3 linked regions of the Homo sapiens genome follow. The protein of the gene in region 1 interacts with the protein of each later gene in a biochemical or structural test. Each region holds a gene or a part of one and is shown in the gene's direction. Other genes may lie near its edges. The genes, in order: CHRM1, GPRASP1 and RGS7.

Region 1 (10,021 bases):
GGTGACTGAGGTGGAGAACCCCTGCGAGCCAATAAACAAAGGGTAGGGTAAAGGGCAGCCCCCGACCCACCGACGTACTTGCGGCGCCTGCCTAGGGGTGAGGGTCTCGCGAAGACGCGAGTACATTTGACACTGAGGGGACATTTAGGATCGCGGCAAAAGCAATGATTGGAATTCTACTGGCCTGACTCTGGCACCTACTAGCTGTGTGACCTTGGACAGGTTACTGAACCTCTCGGTGCGTACTTGCGGCGCCTGCAAGTGTCTCAGGAGAGGAACCGGGCTGAGGCTCCACTCCCCCGGCGCCTTCCCACCCACCCTTCGTCATCGTGGGCTTCAAGCTTTGGCCTCCGCCTCGGGGGGTGGTGGGGGGGAGACTCGAGGACTCGGCGTCCAGGGAACTGGGAGAGGAAGCCAGCAAGGGAAGGAAGGGTGAAACTTCGCCGGGCTGGGAGCACGGGGACCCTGAAATCCGCACTGCCTCACCCGGGTCACGACCCTGGACGAGCGGATTCCACTGTACAGAGTTGGGGGTTGCCTTGAGACCTGGACCTGTTCTGACCCCAAATTCCCGTCCGAAGCTCCGCCGGGCTCCAGCAGTTTCACGTGGGACCTACACCCGCCTGGGCCCGGGCGCGTACACCCTGTGGCGGAAAGCTGAGGAGCCCAATGTCCGCAGACCCAGCGAAGCAGGGTCGACGCCGTGAATCAGGTGTTTCGAGAAGCGAGGGGCGCGAGCTTCCATAGTGCGGGGGAAGGTGCCTGCTTCCTGCGTCGGGGCCGCACTTTCACGGTACATCCAACTCCAAGGCGGCAACCAGTGGCCTGGACTTCCAGGTTGTGTCCTCATAGGCGGGGACAGAGGACGCTTAGGGATGCCCTGTGGGAACGCAGCTCCTCTCCACGGCCCGGTCCAGCGGGGAGTCCGAAACGCCACGTTGCGTTATCTCAGTTCCCAGCATTCACTACCCCTGGCAGGACCCCGGGCGCCGAGTCAACTCAGCGGAGTCTCCGGCCGGGCTATAAGGACCCGGGAACGGCAGGAAAACACGCGAGGCGCCGCTTTCGCGACCGCCCCAAACCCATCTTTTCTTCGGGAACTGCCCGCAAGACTTGGGGCTGGGGAGTGGAGCTGCTTCTCCGCACTCCCACTGCCCTCCGGAGCCCAGCACGTAGCCGGGCAGGAAAGGTGAAGCGTCTACAAGGCCTCAATTTCGAAACCGGACTCGGAAAATCCCGATTTCCTGTCCCAATAAGATGCCTTTATTGTGGCCGCGTCCGCTCTCGCCTCGGACGGCGGGGACTCTGGGGGCCCCTTACTGGGCCTGCTCTATACGCAGCCCCGCCCTGGATTTGAGTTTCTTGTTTTACATCTGGGAATTAGTCTCTCCAGGAGTCCTGGCGGGAGGGAGTGGGGGGAGAGAGGAAGTTGAGGACCTAAGGCCATTGAAGGTGAAGATGCGAGGAGGGGCGCCCTTAGGCCGACCCGCTGCCTCCCACCCGGACTCAGAATGTGTGCCCCAGGACAGAGGAAGCGGCACTGTAAAAGTGGCACATTTAGCTGGGTTTGAGTTTCTGACACGGATTAAAACCAAGGGCGGAGACTTACACTCCGGGTCTGCAGCGCACTCCCGGAGCCTGCTCATTCATTCCTCCACCCACCTGCGGCCTTGCCGGACCCTGGGAATCTTAAAAATGCTGTCCCACAGTCCCTGCCGTCTCTGGAACTGCAGCAGGTGCTCAGCCCCAGGATGGCTCCAGGCGCACTGACCTCATCCTCCATGAAACCACAGGGACCCACGCCTCTTGTAAATCTACTCATCTGTAAAATGGGAATAATGGAACCTCCCTCATAGAGTTGTGAAAGTAAATTAAAGAATATAGGCCGGGCGCTGTGGCTCACGCGTGTAATCCCAGCACTTTGGGAGGCCGAGGCGGGTGGATCAGGAGGTCAGCATATCAAGACTATCCTGGCTAACAAGGTGAAACCCCGTCTCTACTAAAAATACAAAAAATTAGCAGGGCGTGGTGGCATGCGCCCGTGGTCCCAGCTACTCGGGAGGCTGAGGCGGGAGAGTCGCTTGAACCCGGGAGGCAGAGGTTGCAGTGAGCCGAGATCGCACCACTGCACTCCAGCCTGGAGGAAAGAGCGAGACTCCGTCTCAAAAAAAACAATAAAATAAAATAAAATAATAAGAATATAGAGGCCGGGCGGATGCGGTGACTCACGCCTGTAATCCCAGCACTTTGGGAGGCCAAGGTGGGTGGATTATTTGAGGTCAGGAGTTCGAGACCAGCCTGGCCAACATAGCGAAACCCCGTCTCTACTAAAAATACAAAAATTAGCTGGGCGGTAGTGGCGCGCGCCTGTAATCCCATCTACTCGGGAGGCTGAGGCAGGAGAATCCCTTGAGCCTGGGAGGCGGAGGTTGCCGGTAAGCCGAGATCACGCCACTGTACTACAGCTTGGGCGACAGAGTGAGACCCTGTCTCACAAATATATATATATATATATATATATATATATATATAGAGAGAGAGAGAGAGAGAGAGAGAGAGAGAGAGAGAGAGCACTTAGCAGTTCCTGACACATAGTAAGTGCTCAATAAGTGTTATAAAAAAGAACTGCCGGACGCGGTGGCTCAGTAATCCCAGCACTTTAGAAAGCTGAGGGGGGCGGAGGCGGGCGGATCACTTCAGCTCAGGAGTTCAAGACCAGCCTGGCCAACATGGTGAAACCCTGTCAATAAAAAATTTAAAAAAAAAAAAAAAAAAAAAAAAAGCCAGTGGGGTGGCGCGCGCCTGTAGTCCCAGCTACTCAGAGTGGGTGAGGGGGTAGGGCTGCGGTGGGAGGATCGCTTGAGCCCGGCAGGCAATTGCAGTGAGCTCTGATCGCGCCACTGCACTCCAGCTTGGCCAAGAGACCGAAACCCTGTATTAAAAAAAAAAAAAAAAACCGCAGTGATGGCTTTCACTTTTTGCAGACGCACGTGCCACGTTTTACCTGCAGAAGCTCAACTAACCCGTCAAACAGCCTGGTCGGGGAGGTATTTCTACCCTTCTTGTCACTGATGAAGAAACTGAGACCTAGAGAGGGGGCCTAGCTTGCTCAGGCCGCTTCAACTAGAAAAAGGCCAAGCTGAATTCGCATTCAGGGCACTCTCCTCTTGCACAGTAAGGGGGCCGAGACTGGGGCCGAGCCGCGCAAGGGCGACTCCACGTTCCCTTGGTGGCCTGGAGGACTGAATTCTCGACCAGGCGACCAAAAATAACAACCAGCAGGAGCCGAGACCCGAGAGTCAGACCCCACCCAACCCAGCCAGAAATGAGGGAGAACTGGAGGGGGTCGCGCGGGGGCGGGGCCAAAGCCCCACGTGCGCCGCCTGCAGCCGCTTCAAGAAGCCCTTTGTCGCGAGCAGCCGCGTTCGTGCCGCACTCGGAGGCTTAAAATAAAGACAATGTTCCCAGCCTCCCTGCGGCTAAATCGGGCGCGAGTGCGGGGGTGGTGAGCGAGCCGGGCGGGAGCGCTTCTCCAGGCCGTACCTCTCTTCTCCCCTCCTGCCTCAGTTTCCCCATCTGATAAGGGTGAGCTAGCCAAGTCTGGGCGGGGACGTCAGAAGAGTGATACAGTGGTGGGGGTGGCGGGGGGCGTCATCCCCCTGCGTCCGCGACTGCACAGACTTCAGAAGAAAGCCGCGTGGGACAGAGGGGGGCACTCAGGAGGAGGCAGGGGAAAGCTGGACACCCTCCCCACCCGCCCACAAAATAAGTGTTTTTATTTCTAAAGGGACGTGTGCAGAGGCGGTGGGAGAAGAGAAAAGGGAGACCAAGGAGACTGGGGGGAGGTGGCAAAGAGGGAGCCTGATTCAGATTCGGAAATGGATGTTGAGCGTGGAGGCCTAACACCCCCACACTCAGCCACGTGTACGCGCACAAGTACACGCAGCCCCACCGCGCCGCCCAAGCCGCAGCCGCAAACCCAGGGCAGCCCAGCAGGGGGCATCCCGAGTCCGCGCCCAAGGGTAGGGACTGGTCAAGTTCTGACCCAACCCTGACCGGCTGGGTGACCCTGGGATGGAAAGGGGATGCTCACTTAGATTTCTCTCCAAGCTGCAGCGTCTGCTTGACTTCAGCAGGGAGGAGGACTGGGTGCCTGCTGGAACCCCAGCTGGCTTTGAGAAGCACAGATGCCCCCACATGTACCTGCCACGTGTGCCCACCAGTAGCTGCTGACCAAACCCCAGGAACTCCAGTTTCAGCTCCACTTGGCTCCATTGGCCAACTGGGCTCCTGGGTGAGAAAGCCCCAGGTTACCCTCAGGCACCAGCATTGGCGGGGTTGTGGGGGCGGGGGGCGGCGCTTGGTGGGGAAATGAGTAGGGGAAACCCCTGCCCCAGACTCCAGAGCCCTGGGCTTAGAGCCAAGTGACCTGAGCCCAAACACCTGCCCACCACATGCTAATCATACCTCTGCTCTTCAGATTTCTCACCTACAAAATGGGGATAATTGATGCTCCCATTCCTTCCCACCTCTCACCCCAAGACTTCGACACAGCCCAGTGGGCAAAGAACACAGCAGCCCCAGAAGGCAGTCCCTGCAGCCTCCAACTCTCCTCCCCAGTCAGCTCCCGGGGAGGTCTCTAGGGCCAAACAGAGGCGGTGCAGGACCCACATCTCTAGGGCAAACGGCCCCCCAGGGGTTCTATCTCTGAGGAAGCTCAACACAGAAGTCCAGACCAGCCTGGCAGGGAGGGATGCTGGCCTCACCCAGTAGGGCTGAGGGAGATTGGGAGGAGGGCTCATCTCCTCCCAGGTACACACCTGTGAGCCCTGAGTGGGAGTCAGGGGAGACAGAGCTTGACAAGCTGGGAGGAGAGCTGTCTGTCTGCCTGTCTGTCTTCCAAGTGGAAGCTTGGGGTGGAGCAGGCAGGTAGAGGCTGCCTCACTTGTCAGAATTAGCAAGTTCCACAGTTGGGCAACACTCAGCCACACATCAGATACAGACACACGTGTGCACACGCGTCCTGCCTCCAGACTGATAGGGTCACACCTGCACTTACACAGGCTGCATGGTGACATGAGTACACAGGGACACACATATGCAAGGCACTCAGCCGCACATGGGGCAGGCACCTGGCCCTCTACTCATCCCCGAAAAGCAGACACCCATATACCCTCACAACAGGCTATGCATAGCCCAATGCTAGCGCACACAGCCCAGCATGCGGGCACGTTCACTCAGCCCCCGGGCGGGTGCGCCAGCCCTCTGGGTCTGTTCCAAGTTGGAGCCTCTCACGTGAGGCCCAATGTGTCATTTCCAAACAGAAGGAATCTAGCTCTCTCACAGCAGGGAGGAAGAGCAGGGTGTGTAGTTGGGTGGGTGGGTGCGTGGGCATGTGCAGGGGGGAGGGCGTGTGTGCGAGGGAAGCAGGCATGTGAATACCAGGGCATGTGTGTTGGGGCATGGTGCACAGGGGCTGGGGGCTCTAAGGTTGGGTGGGGGGAGGAGCCCAAGGAAACAGTGTGCCTTTGTGAGGGTGTGTGTGCCGCCGGGTCTGTGCAGTGGGTGTGGGTGTTTGTCTCCCTGTATCCGCCTTCTCTCCCGTCCGGGACTTTTAGCCTTCCTGGGCTCGCCTTCCTCATGTCCTTTCTCCTCCCTCTTGGGGCTCAAATTGGGTGCCCTGGTGAAGGAGGGGGGCACACTCCAGAACCTAGTCCAACCCCAGACGCTGCCTGAGGCTTCCCTCCAGCTCCCCTCCCTTCCTTTTCTCCCTTTCCTCCCTCCCTCTCTTTCCCTTTCTCCCTCCCCGCTAAGGCTGGCGTGCCAGGGGGTGGGACATGCCAATCACTGGCTGTGCCTCTCCCGCTGCCAGCACAGGGCGCAGCTCCCCCTGGGAGCCAGGTGTTTGGGTCCCTGGAGACGCCGCAGGCCCCCAGGGAGGCAGTGGGGCTGAGGACCCTACAGACCCCTCTTCAGCCCCGTGGTGAGTACATTTGGGAGGGCTTGGGAGGGGCTGCACTAAGGTAGAGGGTAGGAGGGTCCTGGGGAGCGGGGGAGGGCAGGGATCAGGATGAGATGGAAATAGGGATGGACTCACAGAGATAGGAGGAGGCCAGGGAGGGGTCTAGAGGGCAAGGGGGCTCTGTAGCATTGAACACTGACTGCTCCAAACACTCGGCCTCCTGGCTTTGAGTGGATATAGCTGATGTTTTTCTGGGCTTCTGCTGGCAGAGGAGATGGAGATCCCCCTCAGGAAACTGGACCTGAGGCCCAGAAGGGATTAGGCTGCCTGGTAGCAAGCAGAACCCCCAACACCCTAGGGGCAGAGTGGGAAGGGCAAAGGGCCAGGAAGCAGCCCTTGCCACCAGCATCCTGTGGGAGGTTGACCCCCATCTTGATGGGGGTGCCAGTCCCAGAACCTCCTGTCCTCCCTCAGGGCACCCTGAAACCCACCACCCCCGTCCACCTCAGCTCCCCCAAGATGGACTGAATCAGGCTGCTGGCCAGATAGAGAAGCTAGAAGCCAAGGTGGGTGTCAGGCCAGAAGCCAGCAGGAGACCAGGCAAAGAGCCCCAGGGCTCTTTGGGGACAAATGGGCATGTGGGTGGCCACACTAGCCAGGGAAGGTGGCCCTGACGTGCGCAGGGGCCCAGAGGACCCTCCTTATGTTTCTAGTATCTTGGGCTCCCGCAGGGTGGGTCTCAGTCCTATATCCAGGCAATGCATGGATACCAATGGGCACCCACGCCAGGTACTCACCCCAGTGCCCGCAGACTGCACAACATGGGGATGGGCTAGGGGCCAGGAACTCTGATGCTTGTAGAGTTGTCAGCTCCTGGGCAGGCCAGCTGGGGAGGGGGTCGTCAGCTCTCATTAGGTCATCCAGACATGTGCAGCTTAGAGGTTATCAGAGCCAATGGAGAGGGGTTCACATCTTTGCACAAAACACACCTGCAGCTCCACCCAGACTGACCCAAGACCCCTGCCCAACTGGCTGGAAGGAGTCAGGCAGTCTCCAGTAGCCAGACAGTCTCCTTTCTCAGGGTAATCAGCTGTTCAGTGGGCTGTCAGATGAGAGTTCTCTGCCCTCTGACCTCAGCCACCAGGCAAGCTGCAGTCGCTATCGCGGCTGAGATATGAAAGGGAAGGAGATAGTGAAATGGGCTGCAGAAGATGTGGGTCTTGGCTCGCAGCTGACAGCTGGCGGTTGGAGTTCTGAGAACTGGATTCTGAAGTGTAATGGGGAGTCCAAAGTGTCAAGAAGGGGCTAACCAGAGGTCATGTCAGACCTAGAAAGGAGGCTTTCTATTGTATGGAGGGACTGAGGCTGAGAAAGGGAAAGGGACATGCTCATGGTCGGAGAAGGGATATGTAGGGATCCAGCTGGGGCTCGGACCCCTTCTCCGCATCCTCAGCACAACACTGCGCTGCCGCCTCCATGAGCAGGAAGATGGGGTGGGAGAGCAGGGGGCGCAGTAAGCTCTGAGACGCAGAAGCTTGGGCTCCCAGCAGGCGGGGAGAGGTGGGTGAATTGCGCTGGGTTTCTGCTCTGCTGTGGTGCCATGGTGATGCCTACAAGGATGGAGGAGGGAGGGAGAGAGAAGAAAGGAAATGAGGAGGAGAGTGCAAGGAGCCAGGAGCAGGGGGCTTGCGGAGAGGAGGATGAGGGACCCAGAACCTCTGATGCCACACTGGCAGAGTGAGGTCTAGGGTCCAGCTGCTCATGCCCAGGCTCTGTCATGGTCTGGCCAAAGTCAGGCAACTGCTTAAGATCCATCATGGGTGAGCAAATTTGGCAGTGATTCTAGGGCTGATGCTTCTCTTCCAGCTAAGCAGTGTGTTTCATGTAGCATTTAACTGATGGCTGCTGCCCTCCACAAGACTAGTTGGCCCTCCCAATGGCAACTGTTGAGCCTTAAAAATGTGATAAATTCTGTTTACTCCCTCATTCTCAAAGCCAGACATCAGGGGTGGAAGTTTTGTGCACCTTAATGGGTCAAGAGCTGCTGTCAAAGAAAAGTTAACCCCGAGGGGAGAGCTGCCTCGTATGGGCTGGCTTCTGGGGTCAGGCCCTAGCAGAAGGGATCAGTGAGTAGACCTGGCCAGAAGGAGCGCCCTCCTCATTGCATATGTGAGGCCTCAGGTGCCCAACCCCACAGCCCCCTCCACATACCTCCCACTCCCCAATGTTATCCCCTCTTCCTAACCAGGACTCTACCAGCTTCCAGGCCCAGAATCACAAGATGGCTCCGCTCCTCCCTCCTAAATATCTTCCCCAGCATCCCCTCATTCCCTCCCTCCCCTTCTGTACTCTTTGGCCAGCGGTACGTTCAGAAAAGCCTGGTGTTCAGGAATCCCTCTCCCCATTTCCCTTTCCCTGCCTCCCCCAGTGGTTCTCTCCACTCCCAGTTGCTCTCACAAGCCAGATCCCCAGCCCCTAGGGATTGGTCCTGGGCGCTGGGAGTCAACAGTCTGGCCTGCTGTAATAAAGGCTCTGACCTCATCCCTTAACCCTTTGAGCCCAGGCTAACATTCTCCTCTCCCCAGTGACAAATGCTTTGGCACGTCCATGTCTGTCCTGGCACCTCACTTAGCTTCCCTGCAGCCGGGTGAGGCAGGGTTTCCTTGGTCCACTTTACAGACAAGGATGCTCTTGGCTGTTTTTCTCCTATGCTCTCCAGCCAGGCAGGGCCTCACTCAGGGAAGCAGGGACCTGGCAGATGAGATGTGGGAGCTCAAGGGAGAAGAGGGGCCTCTGGACCATGCTCTGGACCTGGTCCTGACCCCCACAGGTTCACCCTCAGGCTCCAGGGTCTGAAGTTGAGTACACACACGTACATTTATTCCACAGGTATTTATTGAGCAACTACTATCTGCCAAGCCCTGGGATAAAGCATTGAATGAGACAGACGCAGCCCTTACCCTGCCCTTTAAAGAGCTCCAGTAGACCCACCCTCTTCCCACAGCACTGTTATCACACATCACACAGATATACGACAGACACTGCCGCGCACACAAAGGAGGCCAGATTCTGAAAGAAGGACCGATTGCTCATCGTTAACTGATTCAAAGTTGGGCTTGAGTAAGCTAGCTGAGGTGGGCAAGGAGGCTGGCAAACCCCCGCAACCCCTCAAGGGCAGGAGTAGGGTTCAAGAGGTTGGTCTCGGAGGCAGACGGCCTGGATCCAAATCCTGGTTGCATCGCTGATGAGCTGTAAGGTCCTTCAGGTCTTGAAGCCTCAGGTTAGGCCTTTTGCAAACTGGGGATAGCAGGACCTACTTCACAAGGAGTTGTAACAGGTAGATTAGATCGAGTTTATAATGTTTATGTATATAATGCTTAGAGCCATGTCTGGTATATAGTATGCAGCCAGTAAATACCAGTTACTATAATATGAGTAATTTTTCTTTGCTGCTATTATGTGTAAGGAGTATTAGTGATAGTATTAAAGCCTTCTAACAGCCTTCATCAGGAGGCCACAGTCCTGGAGAGAAGCCCCTCCTTGCTTCCTCACTATCTTCCTGAACTCCAGGTGAAACACCCTCTGAGGATGAGTCCCCACAAAGCTATGGACCCACCTCCACCATTCCCAGCCTTGCTCAGCAATGCATATACCCTCACACACAAACACTCATCCTAGGAGTTCACCCCATTCCACAGAAGGGCCACCAGGTCAGGACGGTCATTTACCCAAGGTCACATAGCAAGACAAGAGCTGGCAGCTAGGCAGAGGCAGTGCCAAGGACTGCCTCGGGGGGTCTTCCTGCTGCCCACTGCAATCCCCATTGACAAACTCACTGCATATGTGAGCCCCAGCCCCCATGGATGCCTTCACAGGACGTGCCCTGCAAATGCAGCTTCAAGCCCCCTTTTCAACCAGCTGGCTGTCCTAAGTCCCTCCTTCTTTAGGGATTCTAGAGCTACCACTGAACCCCATACCCTAATCCTCAGCCTAGGGCTGGTCTCCCCAGGGGAATCTGCCACAATCATGGGAAACCAGATTCTTTCACAGCCACCATCT
Region 2 (10,595 bases), on another chromosome or scaffold:
GTTCTTTCAGATTTTGTACATACACAGTCATTTCATCTGCACATGAAAACAGTTTTCTTTCTTCCCAGTCAGTATAACTTTAATTTCTTTTTTCTTGTCTTTATTGCATTAGCTAGGACTTCCATTATGATGTAGAAAAGCAGTGGTGAAAGGGAAAATATCTGCCTCATTCCTGATCTTACTGATAAATCAAGTTTCTCACCATTAAGTATGATGTTAGCTGTAGGTTTTTGGTAAATATCCTTTATCAAGTTGAGGAAGTTCTCCTCTATTTTTAGTTTGCTGAGACAACTTTATTCTTTTATCTGTGGATATCTGGTTCTCTCATTACCACCACCACATATAGAGAACGGACAAGATTTTTAATAAATGGTGATTGCGTCCTCTATTAGTTTGTTTTCATGCTGCTGATAAAGATGTACCCGAAACTGGGAACAAAAAGAGGTTTAATTGGACTTACAGTTCCACATGGCTCAGGAGGCCTCAGAATTATGGCAGGAGGTAAAAGGCACTTCTTACACAGCGGGAGCAAGAGAAAAATGAGGAAGAAACAAAATCAGAAACCCCTGATAAGCCCATAAGATTTTGTGAGTCTTATTCACTATCACAAGAATAACACGGGAGAGACCAATCCCTGATTCAATTACCTCCCTCTGGGTCCTTACCATAACACGTGGGAATTCTGGGAGATACAATTCGAGTTGAGATTTTGGTGGGGACATGGCCAAACCATATCATTTCACCCCTGGCCCCTCCAAATCTCATTTCCTCACATTTTAAAACCAATTATGTCTTCCCAGCAATCCCCCAAAGTCTTAACTCATTTCAGCATCAACCCAAAAGTCCACAGTCCAAAGTCTCATATGAGACAAGGCAAGTCCCTTCTGCCTATGAGCTTGTAAAATCAAAATCAATCTAGTTACTTCCTGGATAAAACGGGGGTGTAGGTATTGGGTAAATACAACCATTCCAAATGGGAGAAATTGGCCAAAACAAAGGGGTTACAGGGCCCATGCAAGTCTGAAATCCAGTGGGGCAGTCAAATTTTAAAGCTCCAAAATGATCTCCTTCAACTCTAGGTCTCACATCCAGGTCATGCAGATGCAAAAAGTGGGTTCCCACAGTCTTGGGCAGCTCTGCCCTGTGGCTTTGCAGGGTACAGCCTCCCTCCTGGCTGCTTACATGGGTTGGCATTATCTGTGGCTTTTCCACGCACACAGTGCAAGCCGTCAGTGGATCTATCATTCTGGGGTCTGGAGGATGGTGGCCCTCTTCTCACAGCTCCACTAGGTGGTGCCTCAGTAGGGACTCTGTGTGAGGGTTCTGACCCCACATTTCCCTTCTGCACTGCCCTAGCAGAGGTTCTCCATGAGGGCCCCACCCCTGCAGCAAACTTTTACCTGGGCATCCAAGCGTTTCTTACATCTTCTGAAATATAGGCAGAGGTTCCCAAACCTCAGTTCTTGACTTCTGTACACCTGCATGCTCAACACCACGTGGAAGCTGCCAAGGCTTGCGGCTTCCACCCTCTGAAGCCACAGCCCAAGCTGTATGTTGGCCCCTTTCAGCCACAGCTGGAGCAGCTGGGACACAGGGCACCAAGTGCCCAGGCTGCACACAGCATGGGGGCCTTGTGCCCAGCCCACAAGAACACTTTTCCTCCTGGGCCTCCAGGCCTGTGATGGGAGGGACTACTGGGAAGTTCTCCGACATGGCCTGGAGACATTTTTCCCATGGTCTTGGGGATTAACATTAGGCTGCTTGCTACTTATGCAAATTTCTGCAGCTGGCTTGAATTTCTTCCCATAAAATGGGTTTTTCTTTCTTATCGCATAGTCAGCCTGCAAATTTTCCAAACTTTTATGCTCTGCTTCTCTTATAAAACTGAATGCCTTTAACAGCATCCAAGTTACCTCTTGAATGCTTTGCTGCTTAGAAATTTCTTCTGCCAGATACCTTAAATCATCTCTCTGAAGTTCAAAGTTCTACAAATCTCTAGGGCAGGGGCAAAATGCTGCCAGTCTCTTTGCCAAAACATAACAAGCGTCACCTTTGCTCCAGTTCCCAACAAGTCCCTCATCTCCATCTGAGACCACCTCAGCCTGAATTTTATTTTCCATATCACTATCAACATTTTGGGCAAAGCCATTCAACAAGTGTCTAGGAAGTTCCAAACTTTCCCACATTTTCCTGTCTTCTTCTGAGCCCTGTTCCAACCTCTGCCTGTTACCCAGTTTCAAAGTCGCTTCCATATTTTGGGGTGTCTTTTGAGCAACACCCCACTCTACCGGTACCAATTTACTGTATTAGTTTGTTTTCACGCTGCTGATAAAGACATACCCGAGACTGGGAAGAAAAAGAGGTTTAATTGGACTTACAGTTCCACATGGCTGGGGAGGCCTCAGAATCATGGCAGGAGGTAAAAGGCACTTCTTACATGGCAGTGACAATATAAAAATGAGGAAGAAGCAAAAATAGAACCCCCTGATAAACCCATCAGATTTTGTGAGACTTATTCACTATCATGAGAATAGCACTGGAAAGACTGGCCCCCATGATTCAATTACCTCCCCCTGGGTCCCTCTCACAACATGTGGGAATTCTGGGAGTTACAATTCGAGTTGAGACTTGGGTGGGGACACAGTCAAACCATATCAAGTCCCATCAATGGAATGTGAGTGGAAATGATGTGAGCATTTCCTCACCATGGATTTTAAGAAGGAAATCAACTACTTCTATTCTCCTTTTTCTCATTTGCTGGCTGGATGCAGGCTGTGGTGAGGCCCTATCATGATGAGGCAGGAAGTGATGGTTAGTTAATGAGAAACAACAACAAAAGGTAGTGTAGTTTTCTCATTATTTTTTCTATTATAGAAAGCAATTTGACATTCCATTAATTTCTAATATTTATTGACATTGTGGAAATTCAGGTTTTCTTCTCCCTGTAAAGCTAATTAGCTCTCCTTGCCAGCTCCTATAGTTCTAAAAATCCTCAAGGGGTATTTCCTATGTCCTGAATTTTTGGGGTTTTCCTGTGATTCTTCCAGTTGTTGCTGCCATTCTAAGCTGTATTGCCAGGCATTTAATGTCCTCTAATTAACTGTTCTCTCTAATTTCCTAACTCCACCTATACACAGGGTTTTCATGATGTCAGATCTGAGTAGTAGTCAAAAGTTTAAATCCATGTTAGAAAGGAGGATATTTTCCTCTCTTTAGGTTATGCTTTATTAATGGGTTCCTTACACTGGAGCATTACAGAGTTTACTTAAAGACAGTTATTTCCTGGATATGTATAAACCTGCCTTTGCTATGACAGATATACAGTTGAGGGTTTGTGTTGGAATAGGCACAAATAGGAGTTCTATAATAATTTCAGTGTTGCTATTAGAATATCTATACTTCCCTAATGGCAAGGCATTGTTCATGGGCTAGGGTCCTTGTGCGTGACTTGGTTTTTCTTCAAGATTAATTCTCTTGAAGTAGACCCCACCCCAAATATGACCTGAAAATATTCTTGGGCCAGGCCTCCCCACCAGTTCTGCAAATGTACCCTGTCTCAAGAAGTAGAGACAGGCTGAGATCTTTCCCATAGCATTTTCAGGCTACACTGAAAATAGACATCTGTTGGGCCAATTTCACCATATAGTTCACCAGACCAACCTCAGCCTAGTTATTCCTGACTACAGGGGACTTTAATTTCTGTGTACAACCTTTGAAACTTTGAGATAGAAGAAGGGGATACATTATAAGAAAACACAGGGTTTGGCTCAGCCTCGACCAAAAGAGAAGTCTCAGAAGGAAGCTTTGCTTGAGGCCCATAAAGGACAGTATAGAGGCAAGTAAAACTAAATAGGCAAAAACAAGTCCATGACCATGGTGATTGAGACAGACAAGAGGAGAACAGGCAAGTGATAGGCTGGTGTGCAAGTTCATGAGCATGCTTGGGGGTGGTGGGTGGGATTTGGAAGAAAACAGTGAGTATGATGAGTGAGCACAGTTGCATCTGTATCATGGACTTAATGCTTATGGATTATTTGGCTCTGACATTTAGATTTCAGTGGTAAGTCAGGGTTACACAGGTGCTAGTGTAGGCACTGAGGAGTAGAAAGATGACTGTTGCAATTTATTGAACTAGAATCAATTATAGGAGGAAATAAATAGTGCTTAGCAGTCAGAGTATCTTATTTCAATCTTTTATTTGCTCAAAGGTTTTAAAAATAATAATCTATTTGATACATACCCATACAAAGCTAACATATGAAAAGCTTAAAGTAGGGCCTTTATCACTTCAATACATACTAACCAATACAAGACCATGTTTTCTAAGAGTACTGACAACAAATTGTCCAACACACATTTTAAAGTCTCACACAGTAAAATTTGTCAGCTTTTGGTAGAACCATTCCTCTGTCAGTAAATATCTTGGAATAAAGATCCTAGCACCTGCAGAATTACCACAGAAGCTTGTGCAAATGTGATTTTGGACATAATTATAAAACAGTAAAGGGGATTGGTGGCTGTATTGGTGAGATGAGCCCTAAAATATTTCTCAGAGACTGAAGCACAGGTAAAGAAAGGCAATGGGAATAGAATTCATCAGGATGGTGAGTGTATTCTGTTCCTACTCCTGCTATTGTTACCAACCAACACAGTGGGTGGGTTCAGTCGTTTGACATCAACCCCATGATCACAGCAAGGATTTAGTAAGGGGATTTATTACTTGTAACGAAGTAATGAGACCACCAGGGATACTTCCCAAAATAATGTCTCCCTGAGATGGGGGCTGGGTCAGGTTTTCATAAGCATTGGGTATTAAGGGTATATCCTGATGGCTTTGGATCTTACAATGAGGTGATGCTGAGAGGCATGATCTGACTGGATCCTGCCATCCAGTGTCCACTTCTTAATTCAGCCCTGGTCCTAATTCAAAACACTTACATTCTCCCTCTGATTGCATGCTTGGTTCATCTGAGGATGCTCAGGTAACATGATCTGAGGGTCCCCGGCAACTGAAAGACAATGCACAACTTTGTTATATAAAAGTTAAACCAGATAGGTCTGGTGCTGCTACCCTGTAACCAGTTACCATACATGGAATGGCTTAAAATAATACCAATTTATTATTATCTTACAGTCCTGGAAGGTTGGAAATCTTCAAAGGGCTTCACCACACTAAAATCAAGATGTTGCCAGAGGAGCTATCCCTCTGGCATTTCTAGGGAAGAATCTGTTTCTTTGTCTTTTCCAGGTTCTGGAGACAGCCTGTATTTCTTGGATCTTGGCTTCCTTCCATCTTCAAAGCCAACGATGACCAGTGTAGACTTTCTATGCTGCTTCAATCTGACATGGAGTCCCTGCCTTCCACATCTAAAGTACCCTTGCAATTACATTGGCCAAGATAACCCAGAATAATCTTAAATTAAACTCAGCTGAATAGCAATCTTAATGATCCTTTGTCAGGTAATATAAAATGGTACATGTTCTGGAGAACAGGACATGGACATCTTTAGGGGACCGTTACCTGCCAAACACAATGAGGGTAGTGTCTAAATGAGTTTTCAAATGGACAACAGTAACAACATCAACTTGGTGTTTAACCACATTGCTCTGTCTGTCCCATGCAGGAAGCAGGGAAAGGAGGGGCTCAAGAGTAGAGGACGGATGTGGGGGTGAAAGAAGAGGATTCAAATGAGCCAGGTTGCTTTGTCTCGGGGAGGGGGGTGCACGGTGGGATCCTCTCCTGAGAATGACTGCTGAAACAATAGGTAGTTGTGGCAGGTGGCGGAGATCCAAGCTGGTTTGATACCAGCCACATTTCCACACTGCCAAATATCATGGCAAGAGAAGACTTGACAGGGAACCGAAGAGAAGCCAGGACCATCCCTACCTGGCGGCATCAAAGAGAGAGGACTGTTATGACCTCCTGCGGGTCCTGACAGGGAAAGGTCCTCTTTTGGGGGCAACTGTGGGGACGGTGCAATGCCAACGTGAGCCACCATTTGAAATGAGAAACAGCGGTGTGGCAGAAAGAAATGAGTCTGGTGCAGACCAGTGGTTGGTTTCCTAGGGTTAGAGGTCTAGGTCTACCTTCTTTTAGAAGAGGGGCAGTGGTGAGTCCTTGATGGGAGCCCCCTGCCCCGGAGTTCACTTAAGAGCAGGTGTACCTTCCTCCCCTGCGTGGCTCCACGAAGCTGGGAAAGAAACGCACAGGACGACCACCCTAGAACCCCGGGCCTGTCTGGACTGAAATCGCCTCTCCCCTCCCACACTGCAGTGCTGACACCCCCTCTCCCATTAACATCCAGGAAGGAGGGTGAGCAGACTAGGGAGGGGGAGAGGGCAAACACCCAGCAGTCCTTATAGGGGGGCGGTTGGGGCGGGGGTGCAGACACACCAAGGGACGGTTTGGTATCCATCCGCTGCTCCCTCCAGCGCGGCTCTTCGCGACCTCGCGATCCTGTCCTCCGCCCGGCCCCGCAGCCGCCCGCCGGTGCCATATATTATAGCAGCGCCAGAAATGTGGTGGTCGTCGCCACGTTAGGGTCCGCGGGGTCCTCCTGAGGCAGCCTGGTGCCAACCCGCAGGCCCCGGCTGGGGCTCGTCCTGGCCCCGCCCACCTCTGGGTCGGAACTATGGTGGTTCTGTGAGGGGGGGCGTCCTGCACTTTCGCGCCGTATCCCTCCGCCCCCCTTCCCGACACCCTCGCGGAGAGCGGTTCTTGCCGCATCCTGCGCAGCCCCTGCCCAGTTTGGTGCAGAGGCGTGGGGGGCGGGACTCGTCTTTGCCATTCGGATCGCTGGGAAAGCGGTGGGAATCCAACTGAAGAGCAGCCAGAGGAGAGCTGAAGAGAGGAGGGGGAGGCCGATGACCTGGGCTCTGGGCCTCTGAAGGCAAGTAGGGGTGCGTGAGGTGGGGGGCCGTGGTGTGGGGGTGGTCCGCCAGGGTGGACCGGCTGGCAACCTGCCCCCCGGACCCTGACAGCCTGGCAACGAGGAGACGATCCGTTCGGAGCCGGGCGCTAGAGAGAGGTGCGCAGTGCCCGAGATCCCTGGCTATGGGGAGGCGGTGACTGGTGCGGGCCAGGCCGGACCAAGGGCTGAGGGGCTGGCTCCAGAGGCACCGTCAGATCGTCTGGAGGAGAACCGCGCTGACCGCTTCCCAGCCAGCTTTGCAGGCGCCCGCGCGCAGCCCTCGACGGTTTCGGTACCGAGAGACGGCTGTGGGGGAGGCTCCTGCGGGAGAAATGGCCAAACGGGAGCCGTGTTGGGGGGCGCCCGGGAGGCAGTTGGGGGGCGCCTGGGGGGGCCCTCGTGGGCCAGCGTCCCAGCTCTGTGCCTAGCCCGTGGGAGGTGGGTCGCGTTCGCTGCTCCGGGCCCTGATTCCGGAAAGGGGCCTGTGGGGCCCCGTGTCCTGGGTGCTGTCCCTTCCCACAGACTCCAGGTTGATGTCAAAGTCTGTCTGCGCGGTAGGTCTGGCGTATTCTGACAGGACACAGTGAGCATCTGTAGAGGAGAGGCTTGAAATAAAGGAGGAGCACGAATATTCCCTGGATTTCTGGAGGTGTGTGGGGATGTGGGGTGGGTGCCAAACACTGGAGAACCGAATCGGGGTGGGGGACTGCGACCAGAGCAGGTCAGGCATCCAGGAGCACCTCTTAATCTTCCCCTCTCTAATGGTGTTCCAGGCGCTTCCCCCACCTTCCATCCCCATCTGCCTCCCCCACCGTCCTAAACTGGGGGCTTGAAAGGGTGAGCTTTGGAGGTAGGGGTGATGAGGGAGACATACTGACAAGTACCAATTCACGACCTGTTTTCTAGAATATGTGGCGCCCTTCCCCCATTTTCTGCTGCGCAGAGCAAGGGGATGTGGCGCACCTAGTGGTGAATCCTCAGAATTGGAGAAGGGAGTAATGAGAAGAGTATGACGTCAAGAGAAGGAGTTGTTATCTCTAGAACCTTGAAGCAGGGCCTAAACAAAACGAGAATATTCCACCAGCAAAACCCCGAATGTTGAAAGACAGATATCAATAATATGGGGATTCTTATCCTTAGCGTTGGTCTCTCTACCAAGGGCTTTACTGCCACCCCTCATTTCCTGTCTTACTTTTTCATCTGTTTGTCCATAGGCCTGCTTTAAGGCTGGCCAGTTCTGCAAGAAAGGCAAGGAGGAGGAGACTGGCTCACACCTCTGGAGGTTGGTGAGAAGGGGGAGGGGGCAATTCAGGGGACAGTTGGAGAAAGAGAGCATGGCAGGTGGCTTTGAGACCAGTGGGTGCAGACCCACTTCTACTCTGCTGGATTTGCACAGTGCCAGCATCCTTTTTATTTCTTGCAGGGGACATGAGATAGGTGTAGGTTGTGTTGTGACTCAGAAAGACCTGAGAGCAGGGACCAGGACACAGGAAACCATAGATACATTGAACCCTTGAATGGGAAGACAGATATTTGTCACAGGAGCCAGAGTGCTTGCCTATCTACCATTCTCCATTCTCTCCTGTATGTTTACTTGTCTGTAGGACCCCCTTCTGTCAGCTGTGGGGCTTGACACTACTTGAACAAGAAAAGGAGGGGGAAACTGCACCACATAAGTGAAGGTTGGTATGAGAGTGGGTATACTTTTGGGCGGGGTAGTGGAGACCAGCATGGGTCCGGGAGTGCTTAGGGTCCAATCTGGGGACTTCTTGGCCCCTCCCATTGCCGACACACTTTCCCACCATTGTTGGACCTGTTTAATAGGAGGCAGCCGGTCCAGAGAGACTTTCTCAAAGCCCAGCTGTCCCACCTAGCATTCAACATCAGTCTCACTGCATATGTCTCTGCATGGGATGACATAATTGGAAGAGACTCAAAGCCCCATTTCATTCTCTCTCCCTAGATCCACCTCCAGTGGCTGCTCTGCTGGTGGTGGGGTTGCTGCTGACAACCACCCTCAACGGGTCTGCACCCATCCAGGAAATCTCTGTCTTCCTCAAGCTTGGTTGTGCCTGTTCTACACTCTATCTGTATTATTGAATTACTGACTGAGACTGTGTTTGGGAAGGAGGCTGAGTGACTACTGGACTGGATATTGACTCTAACTCTTGTTTCCAAGCTTATATCCTCAATCACCTAAAGATCAGAGTGTGAAGAAACAAACCTGTGACAGATCTGTGGTTGAGGTTTAGACTGGGGGAGGAGTATAGTACTGGACTTTCTTTGTAACTTGTACCATGACTGGGGCAGAGATTGAGTCTGGTGCCCAGGTCAAGCCTGAAAAGAAGCCTGGGGAAGAGGTTGTAGGTGGGGCTGAGATAGAGAATGATGTCCCTCTGGTGGTCAGACCCAAGGTTAGGACCCAGGCCCAGATAATGCCTGGGGCAAGGCCCAAGAATAAGTCCAAGGTTATGCCTGGAGCAAGCACCAAAGTTGAGACAAGTGCAGTGGGTGGGGCACGCCCTAAGAGTAAGGCCAAGGCAATACCTGTTTCACGATTTAAGGAAGAAGCCCAGATGTGGGCTCAGCCCAGGTTTGGTGCTGAAAGATTGTCTAAGACAGAGAGAAACTCCCAGACCAATATCATAGCCTCTCCACTTGTCAGTACTGATTCTGTCTTGGTTGCTAAAACAAAGTACCTGTCTGAGGATAGAGAACTGGTTAATACAGACACTGAGAGCTTTCCTAGAAGGAAGGCCCATTACCAAGCAGGATTCCAGCCTTCTTTTAGGTCAAAGGAGGAGACCAATATGGGGTCCTGGTGCTGTCCTAGGCCTACATCCAAACAAGAAGCCTCTCCTAATTCTGATTTCAAATGGGTAGACAAATCTGTGAGTTCCTTGTTCTGGAGTGGAGATGAGGTCACTGCAAAATTTCATCCTGGGAATAGGGTAAAAGACAGTAACAGATCCATGCACATGGCCAATCAAGAGGCTAATACCATGTCTAGGTCCCAAACTAACCAGGAGCTCTATATTGCATCTAGTTCTGGTTCTGAGGATGAGTCTGTTAAGACACCCTGGTTCTGGGCCAGAGATAAAACCAATACCTGGTCTGGGCCCAGGGAAGATCCCAATAGCAGGTCCAGGTTTAGGTCTAAGAAAGAAGTCTATGTTGAATCAAGTTCTGGATCTGAGCATGAAGACCATTTGGAGTCCTGGTTTGGGGCTGGAAAGGAGGCCAAATTCAGGTCCAAAATGAGAGCTGGGAAGGAGGCCAATAACAGGGCCAGGCACAGGGCCAAGCGAGAAGCTTGCATTGATTTCATGCCTGGGTCTATAGATGTAATTAAAAAAGAGTCCTGTTTCTGGCCTGAAGAAAATGCTAATACCTTTTCAAGGCCCATGATCAAGAAAGAGGCCAGGGCCAGAGCAATGACAAAGGAAGAGGCCAAAACCAAGGCCCGAGCCAGGGCCAAGCAAGAAGCCAGGTCAGAGGAGGAAGCCCTCATTGGGACCTGGTTCTGGGCTACAGACGAGTCCAGCATGGCAGATGAAGCCAGCATAGAGTCCAGTCTACAAGTGGAGGATGAGTCCATAATTGGGAGTTGGTTCTGGACTGAAGAAGAGGCCAGTATGGGGACTGGGGCTAGCAGTAAATCCAGACCAAGGACTGATGGGGAGC
Region 3 (10,015 bases), on another chromosome or scaffold:
ATGACTGACTGTTTCATGTGGAAGATTTGCAGTTAAAAGATAATAAAATGTTGTAATTTTAAGTATTGTAATTACTTGAAAATGTATCAATATATGGTAATGGTTTTCAAAACCCCTCACTCTTTATTTACCCAAATCCTTGTTCCTCTAACCAATTGTAAAAATCACATATGCTGATTTGTAAGTGACTCCATCATCAATAGTTACTTTGTACTCCAAAGCTCTCTTTTAAAGAGTAAGAGGACAAGAGGTTGAGAACATTGTCACACTTCCCACATCCAATGATAGGACATTTTCTTCACAAGAGTGCTTACTCTCGCTTTCTGCAGTGCTGATTTCTCTCTACCTCTTGAAGTTTTTTCTTATCACCACTGGCGTACAGCCATGGAGTCATGCTATACACTACCTCTTTTTTTTAGCATTTGATCAATGGTGTTGACTCCAAGTAATATTTCAAAGCAAACTCCAGTGTCTGAAATCAAATAATCTCATGATTGGTTCAGTTATGGGGCTTTATTCTCATTTTGACTCTTTTCCTCTGATATTTTATTATAATATAGTTTATCAAGAGTGTAAAATATACTTTTCTAGTATATTTACAATAATCAGGAAGGAAAAGTCATTCAGAGCGTTTTTAATTAAAGTTTTCTGTGTGTGATTATTCCATGTGAGCATTTGTCATGAATTGTTGATAAAATTATTCTCAAAACACATATCATTGATACTTTCTTGGTATTAGGAGATAGGATTTATTTTGAAATTATAGTAATAAATACATTTATTTTCTAAATTTGGAGGGAAGTATGATTCTGGATTTAGGTATTCACCATGAATGAACGTTTAAAATCTCTACAATTTTATTTTTTATTTTTTTGAGACAGAATCTTGTTCTGTCACCCAGGCTGGAGTGCAGTGGTGTGATCTCAGCTCACTGCAACCTCTGCTTCAGAGTCCCAGGTGATCCTCCTGCCTCAGCCCCCAGAGTAGCTGGGACTATAGTACCTGCACCACTACACCTGGCTACTTTTTGTATATATTTTTTTACAGACAGGGTCTCACTATGTTGGCCAGGCTGGTCTCGAATTCCTGGGCTCAAGTGATCCACCCACCTTGACCTCCCAAAGTGCTAGGATTACAGGCATGAGCCACTGCACCCAGCAAAATCTCTACAATTTTAAAATAAAATCACATTTTGTTAAAGTAGGCAGAATGGTCAAACTCATTGCTCTTCTAAAGTGATATCAATTGTGTTCAAATTCCAACATTTCATTTTGTTAACTCTTTAAGAGCCCTCTGCTTCTATTTTTTTAACCAACTTTGAAATTGTACTGACGTAGACTATACTCTTGTTCAGAATTGCCCAGCTGATCATGATTTAGAGTGGAAAATTGTGAAAATGTCATTACTTATGTAACTCCTTCTCTAACCCTCTTTTCAGATAAAATATTGGCAAATACAGTTAGATAGACATCGGTTAAAAATGTCAAAAGTCGCTGACAGGTGAGTATTTCAAAGTGTCTGTATAAATTTTAAAATTTCATATGACAATTACATGTGTTTAAAAATGAAAGAGAACTGTGGGGACAGGAGTTGGGACAGATAATTGGAATCCTGTAAGTAATGTGATTTTGTTTTCCTTTTTGCACATAGAAAAACTTTCAAAGAACTCTTTTGATGTAGTTTAAATGACAGAATGATTATAATTGTCTTAAATGTCTAGACATCCAGTCCTTGTTCCACTAAGAATCAGATATAGAGGATAATTCTGCAGAGTCTAGCCTTTTCACTCCTGCTGGAAGACATGAAACTTTCCATTTATTGATGACCTTTGGGCAAACTGGAGCCTCTCTATAAACTTATTTTAACAATGACAATTGACACTGTTCCTGCCTGACTTCAGAATATGAATGAAACTCAAATTTCAGATATTTTCCTTTGCTTCATTTAAATCTGTTCTTAATGCCATTCATATTCTTCACTTTTGGGCATTGCCAAATCCTACCTCCCCAACTTCTTTCCCTTCTCCCTTTTTAAAATTTTTATATACATTTAAAAAACTTGTCAGTGGCTCCCATTTTACTTAATTCCTGTAAATACTTTTGACAAAATTTCCCTTTTAAGCCCTTCTCTCAGTTGTATAAAATCTGTTCTGCTGTGGGTGGACTGATTAACCAAAGATTGGAACTGACTCTTAGCGGTGCCCTTCACACACTGACCTCTTCCATAGTGCTTCATGTTAACCAAGGGATACTGATTTACATGGCTTAGGCATGGGTAGAGATGGAATCTTTAGCCACAGTTGTCTGCCAAGAAGCACAATAAGTTGTTGCATGAAAGTTACTGAAGCGTGAAGATTGCCATTGGATTTCATGCTTTAAGTGAACAAGGATTCCTTGGTCCCACATTTTTATATTGTTTTCCCTGCTTTGGACTGGCTGCAACCCCAGTCAGAAAACTAAAGAAACTGGAAATGTTTTTTCTCCTTAGTCTACTAAGTTACACGGAACAGTATTTAGAATACGACCCGTTTCTTTTGCCACCTGACCCTTCTAACCCATGGCTGTCCGATGACACCACTTTCTGGGAACTTGAGGCAAGGTAGGTGGCATTTTATCTTTCTCGCCCATATGTTGCTTTATTTCAGGGTCTGAGTGAAATGGGAAGGATTTTATTGTTGGCTAATTGTGAATGTAATTTTGTTCTTTATCTACATTGGCCTATATCTAACATTCTTGTTCGAGATCATGGCTTTTGAAACTTAGACATTTGCATTTGCATTAAGATTTGCATTTGCATTAAGATTTGCATTGCTGGAAAGACCGTCCCAAAATTAGAGGTGCAATTAGTCAGAGTTAGGATCTTCAGCTCTTGAAATTTAGCTCATTGCTATTATCTTCCTGGAAAATTCACGTAGCCACAAAGTCTCATGTAGTCAAGTAAAGTGAATGCTAAAGCCATACATACTTAAGCCCAACACAAGTATGTCTTTATAAATTCAATTTTAAGACAGAATGAGCTTACCATAGACACTGTAAGAGAAACTGGCAAGACACTTCCTAAGAAAAGCAAAGCACCACTTAGGACTCCATAGTTTCTTTCATGAGCTATCTAGGGAAAGAACTACATCATCAGTCTTAACAGACTCATAAGAGGATCATGGCGTATCACTTTACAAAGAAAAGATGGGTGCTCTGTCACACTTCTAGCAGTTCTCTAGATTGCATTTCTGGTCTCTCTCACTTTTGCATCCAGCCATGAATCTTAAACACTGGACATGCCCAGAACTCTTCCTCCACAAGCTAAAGATTTTATAGATGAGAAAGCTGGAACCCCAAAATGTTGTGACTCAGTTGGGATTAGGTCACAGATTTAATTGACACCAGAATCATTAGCTAGTATTGAGATCTTTTGGTTACCAATGCATTTTCCCCAGTTCAATATACCTGCATGACCCTGTGTGGCGTAGTGGTTAAGAAATGTGTGCCTGGCATGGTGGCGCACACCTGTAATCCCAACACTTTGGGACGCTTTGGTGGGTGGATCACCTGAGGTCAGGAGTTCGAGACCAGCCTGACCAAAGTGGTGAAACCCCATCTCTACTAAAAATACAAAAAGTAGCCGGGCATAGTGGCAGGTGCCTGTAATACCAGCTACCCGGGAGGCTGAAGCAGGAGACTCTCTTGAACCCGGGAGGTGGAGGTTGCAGTGAGCCGAGATCACGCCATTGCACTCCAACCTGGGTGACAAGAGCAAAACTCCATCTCAAAAAAAAAAAAAAGAAAAAAGAAATGTGGCACTGGGGTCAGAATATCTGGATCTTTACCCCTTATTACTTGCCTGACATTGGCAAGTGATAATACTGTGCCTCACTGTCCTCATCTGGAAAATAATAAGATTAATAGTGGCTATCTCATAAAGTGGTTGGCAAAAACAAAAAGAGACCATTTATGTAAAGTGCCTGGCACATAATGCTCAATAAATGTTAGACTTTATTATTAATACTAATGTACACGATGATTTCATGCAGAGCCGTTAATCGGATATATATATTTTTAAAGAAAAGGTAAAGATGGGAACTTCGAGGCACACATGATTTTGAAGGGGAATGTAATAACAAAAAAATGGGAATTCTAATGAAAGGAATGTATTTGCCTTTGTTTTATCTTCTATAGCAAAGAACCGAGCCAGCAGAGGGTAAAACGATGGGGTTTTGGCATGGACGAGGCATTGAAAGACCCAGTTGGGAGAGAACAGTTCCTTAAATTTCTAGAGTCAGAATTCAGCTCGGAAAATTTAAGGTAAAACACATTGCTTGGATCTTATAAGCCAGAGAAATACTGTCTGTGATGTGTCTGGTTATTTTGGAGGTAATAGATCAATTATTCTTCCACTAACATCATAATGATGTCATGAACCCATTGAATTTCTGCCACCTAATGAAGGGAAAAGAGATAGCAAGGCAAAGGCTGTCCAACGTATCAATTTCTTATAACTTATTTTTACGCCGTCTCTGTATCTCCAGATGTTTTAACTATACAAATTTGGTGGCTTTGAAATGGACTCTGTAAAGAAATGCAGTACAGAGAACAATGTTTGGCAAAGTGGAGATTGGCCAATAACATTTATGAAGTTCAATTAAAATATCACCTATTTGTCATTGTTGACTATCTTTGCGTATCACTTCTCAAGCAAGTTAGAGAAGAAGAGACTGGGCAGCTATATCAAATAACTTGAAACCAAACTATTGGGCTGTCTCATTCTCTTTGCATGTTTAAATAATAGCCACAGGGCAATTGAGAGCAGCACAGCATTGAGCTGTTCGTGAGAGAGTGACACCCATTCTGCCCATCTGTTGTAAACATCATCTTTATATATTTTTAAAACTTGCTAACATAAGGAGGATCTGAAAATTGCATTTTTAAATATAAGACATTAGAGTGGATTTTAATAGCTCTATTTAACATCATTGAAGGGAGTGATAACTTTCCACTATATAAGACTGTTGTTTCATGAGTTCTTTCATTCATTATTCTTTTGAAAGCTGATGCCCAATTTTTACTTTTCCATGACTTATGCAGTCCTGTAAAATTCATTTACTGAAAGTTCTCTGCATTCATTTATTTTCATTGGAACGAAGTAGTGCCAGGCATGGTCACGTTCTTTTCAGGAGATTTAACAGGTAGGAATCCCAAACCATTCAGAAAGATGTAGGACGCTGACACATGTCGCATGGATGAAGCAAAATGACCACAGACAGAACCCGGAGGAATGTAACTCTCTGTGTGTGCCTGGCATGGATTGCTGGCATGCAGCTTCCTATTCTCCTTCCAGTTTATGGGAACCCTTCATGCTTGGGCTTTTGCAAGATCTTGCTGCTAAAGTTGCTAAAGTTCTGTATTGAGACTACTAATAACATTTTCTATATTAGGTCACATTGTCAATAATTGAGTGCAAGAATTCATTAAAAGGCTAGGTGCGAGGGCTCACGCCTATAATCCCAGCACTTTGGGAGCCGAGGCAGGTGGCTCTCTTGAGGCCAGGAATTTGAGAGCAGCCTGGCCAACATGGCAAACTCCATCTCTACAAAAAATTAAAATTAAAATTAACCGGGCATGGTGGCACATGCCTGTAGTGCCAGCTACTGGGGAGGCTGAGGAATGAGAATCGCTTAAACCCAGGAGGTGGAGGTTGCAGTGAGCTGAGATTGCACCACTGCACTCCAGCCTGGGCAACAGAGCAAGACTCTGTCTCAAAAAAAAAAAAAAAAAAAGAATGCATTAAAAATAAAGCAGAGATAAAGGATCCTTGAGGCATTTTAGTGGCTAGGGAGATGGACATTCCTCTCATTCTCTAAGTTTTTGAAAACATGCTGATATCATTTGTATCATCATGAGTAAATAAATAAGTAATAAGCCTTACCAGCCTCACCTAGCCAAATAAAAACATCGCCTTCTCTCATTAAAATTACAGTCTATTGGTAGATACAGACAAGAAAACAAATCACAGCACAAAATCATGGGTGTTTAGTTGGGAGAAGCAGAGAGGGATGCCTAGCCCAGAGTTAGAGATCAGCGAAGGGATACTAGGGGAAATCGCTTCTAGGCTAAGAGCTGGACAATGGGGAGGAGATAAACCATCAAAACAGGAAGAGAGAAGATGCCTTTGGAAAAAGAGGATAGCATGTGCATACTAGGTTTCAGGCATGAATTGAATTCCTGCCAATTTCTTAGTTCAAGCTTTAATCATTTCATATCTTAATCATTCTATGCCGTACTAGACTCTAGGCTAAGTGATTATATCTAAGAAATATTAGATTATCTTATATATATACACACACATTATATACATACACACATATACATATATTTCTTGAGTATCTACTATATTGCCTATCATATGTTTCCTTAGTAAGTATAGATCAGTAGATAAATGAAAGATGTAGATTAATTCTTGAATACCTACAAGACACCAGAATATATTTTATATCTACTACTTTTATAAGTATGCTGTTATATTTTGCATTCATTATTTCTGATCATCACACATCCAACCACCAAAACAACATAAAATGTAAATATTGCCTCATTTTATAGATGAGAAAAGCGTGGCTGAGGAAGGTTAAGCCGAGAAAGTGTGGCTAAGGAGGTCAGATTGCATGTAAGTGGCATTCTTGGTTTCCTACAAACCAGTACCAAGCTACTGTCCACTGCTCCCCAAATCTGAGCCCTACTCTGCTTCCACTGACATATCTGTGTCACACACTGAAGGAGACAAAATGGTCCAGTGGTCAACAGGGCTGTGAATTGCACTTAAAATAAAATAACTCTCCGTGCATCTTACCTAAACAGCTGCCCTCCTGCTATCAGTGAGTGTGTCACTCGTCTGAGCATTTTTTTTCAAATATTAGGACAGGAAAAAAATAAGAAGCACTGTTTCTCGATAACTACTTATGCTTCAAATATACCCTCTGCTCTCCCTAATAGAGAGCAGAAACTTGAAATTTTATGATGTATTTCCCTCATTCTTTTTTTTGAGCAAAACACATAGCATAGAGCAAGTGCTAAGAAAACATAGTAATATCATGAGTTTTTATCTTTGAGTGACTAAAAATATGCCAAGTACTTTTCAGTGCCTTCTATATAATTTATATCATTAGTATACATTAACGGAATTAATTTAATCAACTAATCCAATGGAAACCAATTAATCCAGTGGAAACCCAGTGAAATAGGCGTTATCATCCCATTTTACTGATGAGGAAATCAAGAATCAAAGACATTAAAAATACTTACTTAGCTTCCACCTATATAAAGGATATAGGATTTTTTTTTTTTTTTAAGAGAGATGGGATCTTTCTCTGACACCCAGGCTGCAGTTCAGAGACACTGTCATAGCTCATAGCAGCCTTGAAATCCTGGGCTCAACTGATCCTCCCACCTCAGCCTCCTGAGTAGCTAGGACCACAGGTGCAAGCCATTGCACCTGGCTCCTCCATGCTATTAAGCTATTACAATAATTACAGTAATGGTGAGAATAAGAAAGGCAATGATGCTGTTAGAAAGACCGTGTGAGGGAGTGGTTGTGAGCATGTCATCTGCTGCAGATCTTCTGGGAGCAAACCTCAGCTGTGACAGTAATAGTGAGCAACCTTAAATAAGCAACTTAATCTTCATATGCTTAGTTTCCTCTTCTCTAAAATGAGGGAAATAATAGAACTTGCCTAATAGAATTACTGTGGGAATTAAATGAGTTAATATAGGTGAATCACTTAGAGCAGTGCCTGCACTTACATAACAGTGTAGGTGTGGTTATTAACTTCTCAACCCCTTTATATTTTATGCTTATTTCCAGGCCCATTTCAGATGTCACTGGATTTAGAATAGCTTTGTCTAGATCCCCCTTTTCCAATCCAGCACTTGCCCCAGCAGAGGGGCTCTTTCCTGCTTGCCTTTCCCAGACCGTCTAGTTCGTTCTCTTCCTAGAGAGCCATTCATGTACTTCCTGGTGTTACGGCCAATTAAATGGTTTATCTTTTTCTCTACTCATTCTTTGAGGACAGAGACTGTTTTGATTGATGTGTTCAGAGTGTGCTGGCATGAACTTGCCTGAGCATATGTTAATTTCAACACTTCTGCTCCCTCGGATTATGCGTAGTATTCCCTTTTTTTTTTTTTTTTTTTGAGATGAAGTTTTGCTCTTGTTGCCCAGGCTAGAGTGCAATGGCATGATCTCTGCTCACTGCAACCTCCACTTTCCGGGTTCAAGCGATTCTCGTGCCTCAGCCTCCCGAGTAGCTGGGATTATGGGCATTCGCCACCACACCCAGCTAATTTTTGTATTATTAGTAGAGATGGGGTTTCACCATGTTGGCCAGGCTGATCTCAAACTCCCGACCTCAGGTTATCTGCCCGCCTCAGCCTCCCAAAGTGCTGGGATTACAGACGTGAGCCACCATGCCCAGCCTCGCATAGTATTCCTATTAGAGTGCACAGTGTCTAAATCTGTGTTTTAAGAGGGAAAGGTCTTGAGCCTTCCTTTCTAAAAGTCATGGTGGTAGTTTCCTGTTTGAGGCGTTGTCAAACTTAGATTATCCTCTGCTACATATATCTATAAAAAAACAAAATCTGGAAATGAAAACTCAAAAATCACTAGACTGAGTAGTAGTTGATATTCTAATTCTAGCTCATGCACTTCATTACTGATTTCTGATTATTTATTAATGGTCAAGTTAAAGCTTAGTAGTTACGAAGGTACTGCTGATCACCTGTGCCTCTCTTAAGACTCTGTAGCCTGAAGTTTGCTGTCTCTGTGGCCCTCTTTGCCTTTCTTTGACTTCGTCTACTATTAGAGCAGTAAGAGTGTTTATGGAGGATAACACAGTCCTAGCAGCTCCTTTTTCTAGTAGAGTGTTTGTTTCTATTAACAAATTATGATATACTCATTTATCTTTTAAACATTATTTCTAGAGATCTAACCAGCAAGCTCTAGCCTAGAGCAAAATATTGAAGAAATGCAACCGATTAATACAATGTGGCCCCTTCTCACTAGACTTTACCACTTGCTATTATCAACCAAAACACACTCCCAGGTTCTTTCAGTATACATATGGTATAAATAAGTCTATCTTCAGAAGTAAGTCAGTATATATTATTCCGTGGCTTCTGAATTGCAATGATGCCTCTACACATTTCAACTTTTCAAATAATTCCATGTGAAAGCTTGCTGCTTTGGTCATTCCATAACTCTCTCAATTAAATTACCTTAACATTAGTTAATTGTTTTTATTTTTCCAGCCAGAGCATTTTCTGATCTTATGTCCAGGCCTCTTTTAACTCCAGCAAAGCTTCTTTGTAATTCCCTTACCACCTAGAACAGAAAAGGCTCTCCATACTAGCCCCCATTGCTGAAATGGACAGAACATCCAAAGAACACAGTGTAATGCACAGCTTTATCTCCCAATTGGAGGCTCCATGTCCCACACCTTTAATTCCCTTCAAACTCCTCTTTGTTTTCAATCAACAGTCAGAAGTGCTACTTTCCTTAGGTAAAATCAGTGTTATACGGGGCTCTGACAGATCTGCTTTTAACAACAAACACTTAGAAGAGAGAGTTTTTCATGTTTCTTTATATTTTTATTAATATTTTTTATTTATATTTTTAAAATATTTTTATTAATATTTTTATATTTTTATTAATAATTATTTTTCATAATAATCTTCCAAAGAAGATTATCCTTTGAACACAGTCAGTACCACCCTGATACTGGAAGCCCTCAGAGAAAGTGAGCTGGCTGTGAGTCGTCATGATGAACTGCATGATCCGTAAATGTCACAAGAATTTTCAGATGATGGGCCATCAGAGTAAACACCCGATCTCACATTCTGCATAGATTCTGGCTGGCAGTGGAGGACCTGAAAAAGAGGCCTATTAAAGAAGTACCCTCAAGAGTTCAGGAAATATGGCAAGAGTTTCTGGCTCCCGGAGCCCCCAGTGCTATTAACTTGGATTCCAAGAG

What was found.
Region 2: the proteins of CHRM1 (region 1) and GPRASP1 form a complex in vitro, tested with the Homo sapiens proteins (one study listed by BioGRID and IntAct).
Region 3: the proteins of CHRM1 (region 1) and RGS7 form a complex in vitro, tested with the Homo sapiens proteins (one study listed by BioGRID).

What each region holds. Positions count from the first base shown.
Region 1 is NC_000011.10:62,917,180-62,927,200, reverse strand, and holds the start of CHRM1 (muscarinic acetylcholine receptor M1), read left to right. Parts: upstream 1-5,837; 5' UTR 5,838-5,983; intron 5,984-6,759; exon of another isoform or gene 6,760-7,041; intron 7,042-8,839; exon of another isoform or gene 8,840-9,275; intron 9,276-10,021. UniProt on the Homo sapiens protein: The muscarinic acetylcholine receptor mediates various cellular responses, including inhibition of adenylate cyclase, breakdown of phosphoinositides and modulation of potassium channels through the action of G proteins.
Region 2 is NC_000023.11:102,644,706-102,655,300, forward strand, and holds the start of GPRASP1 (G-protein coupled receptor-associated sorting protein 1), read left to right. Parts: upstream 1-6,777; 5' UTR 6,778-6,890; intron 6,891-6,981; 5' UTR 6,982-7,028; intron 7,029-7,469; 5' UTR 7,470-7,560; intron 7,561-8,125; 5' UTR 8,126-8,193; intron 8,194-8,515; 5' UTR 8,516-8,593; intron 8,594-8,874; 5' UTR 8,875-9,208; coding exon 9,209-10,595. UniProt on the Homo sapiens protein: Modulates lysosomal sorting and functional down-regulation of a variety of G-protein coupled receptors. Targets receptors for degradation in lysosomes via its interaction with BECN2.
Region 3 is NC_000001.11:240,806,201-240,816,215, reverse strand, and holds part of RGS7 (regulator of G-protein signaling 7), read left to right. Parts: intron 1-1,438; coding exon 1,439-1,500; intron 1,501-2,487; coding exon 2,488-2,598; intron 2,599-4,172; coding exon 4,173-4,298; intron 4,299-9,889; coding exon 9,890-10,015. UniProt on the Homo sapiens protein: GTPase activator component of the RGS7-GNB5 complex that regulates G protein-coupled receptor signaling cascades.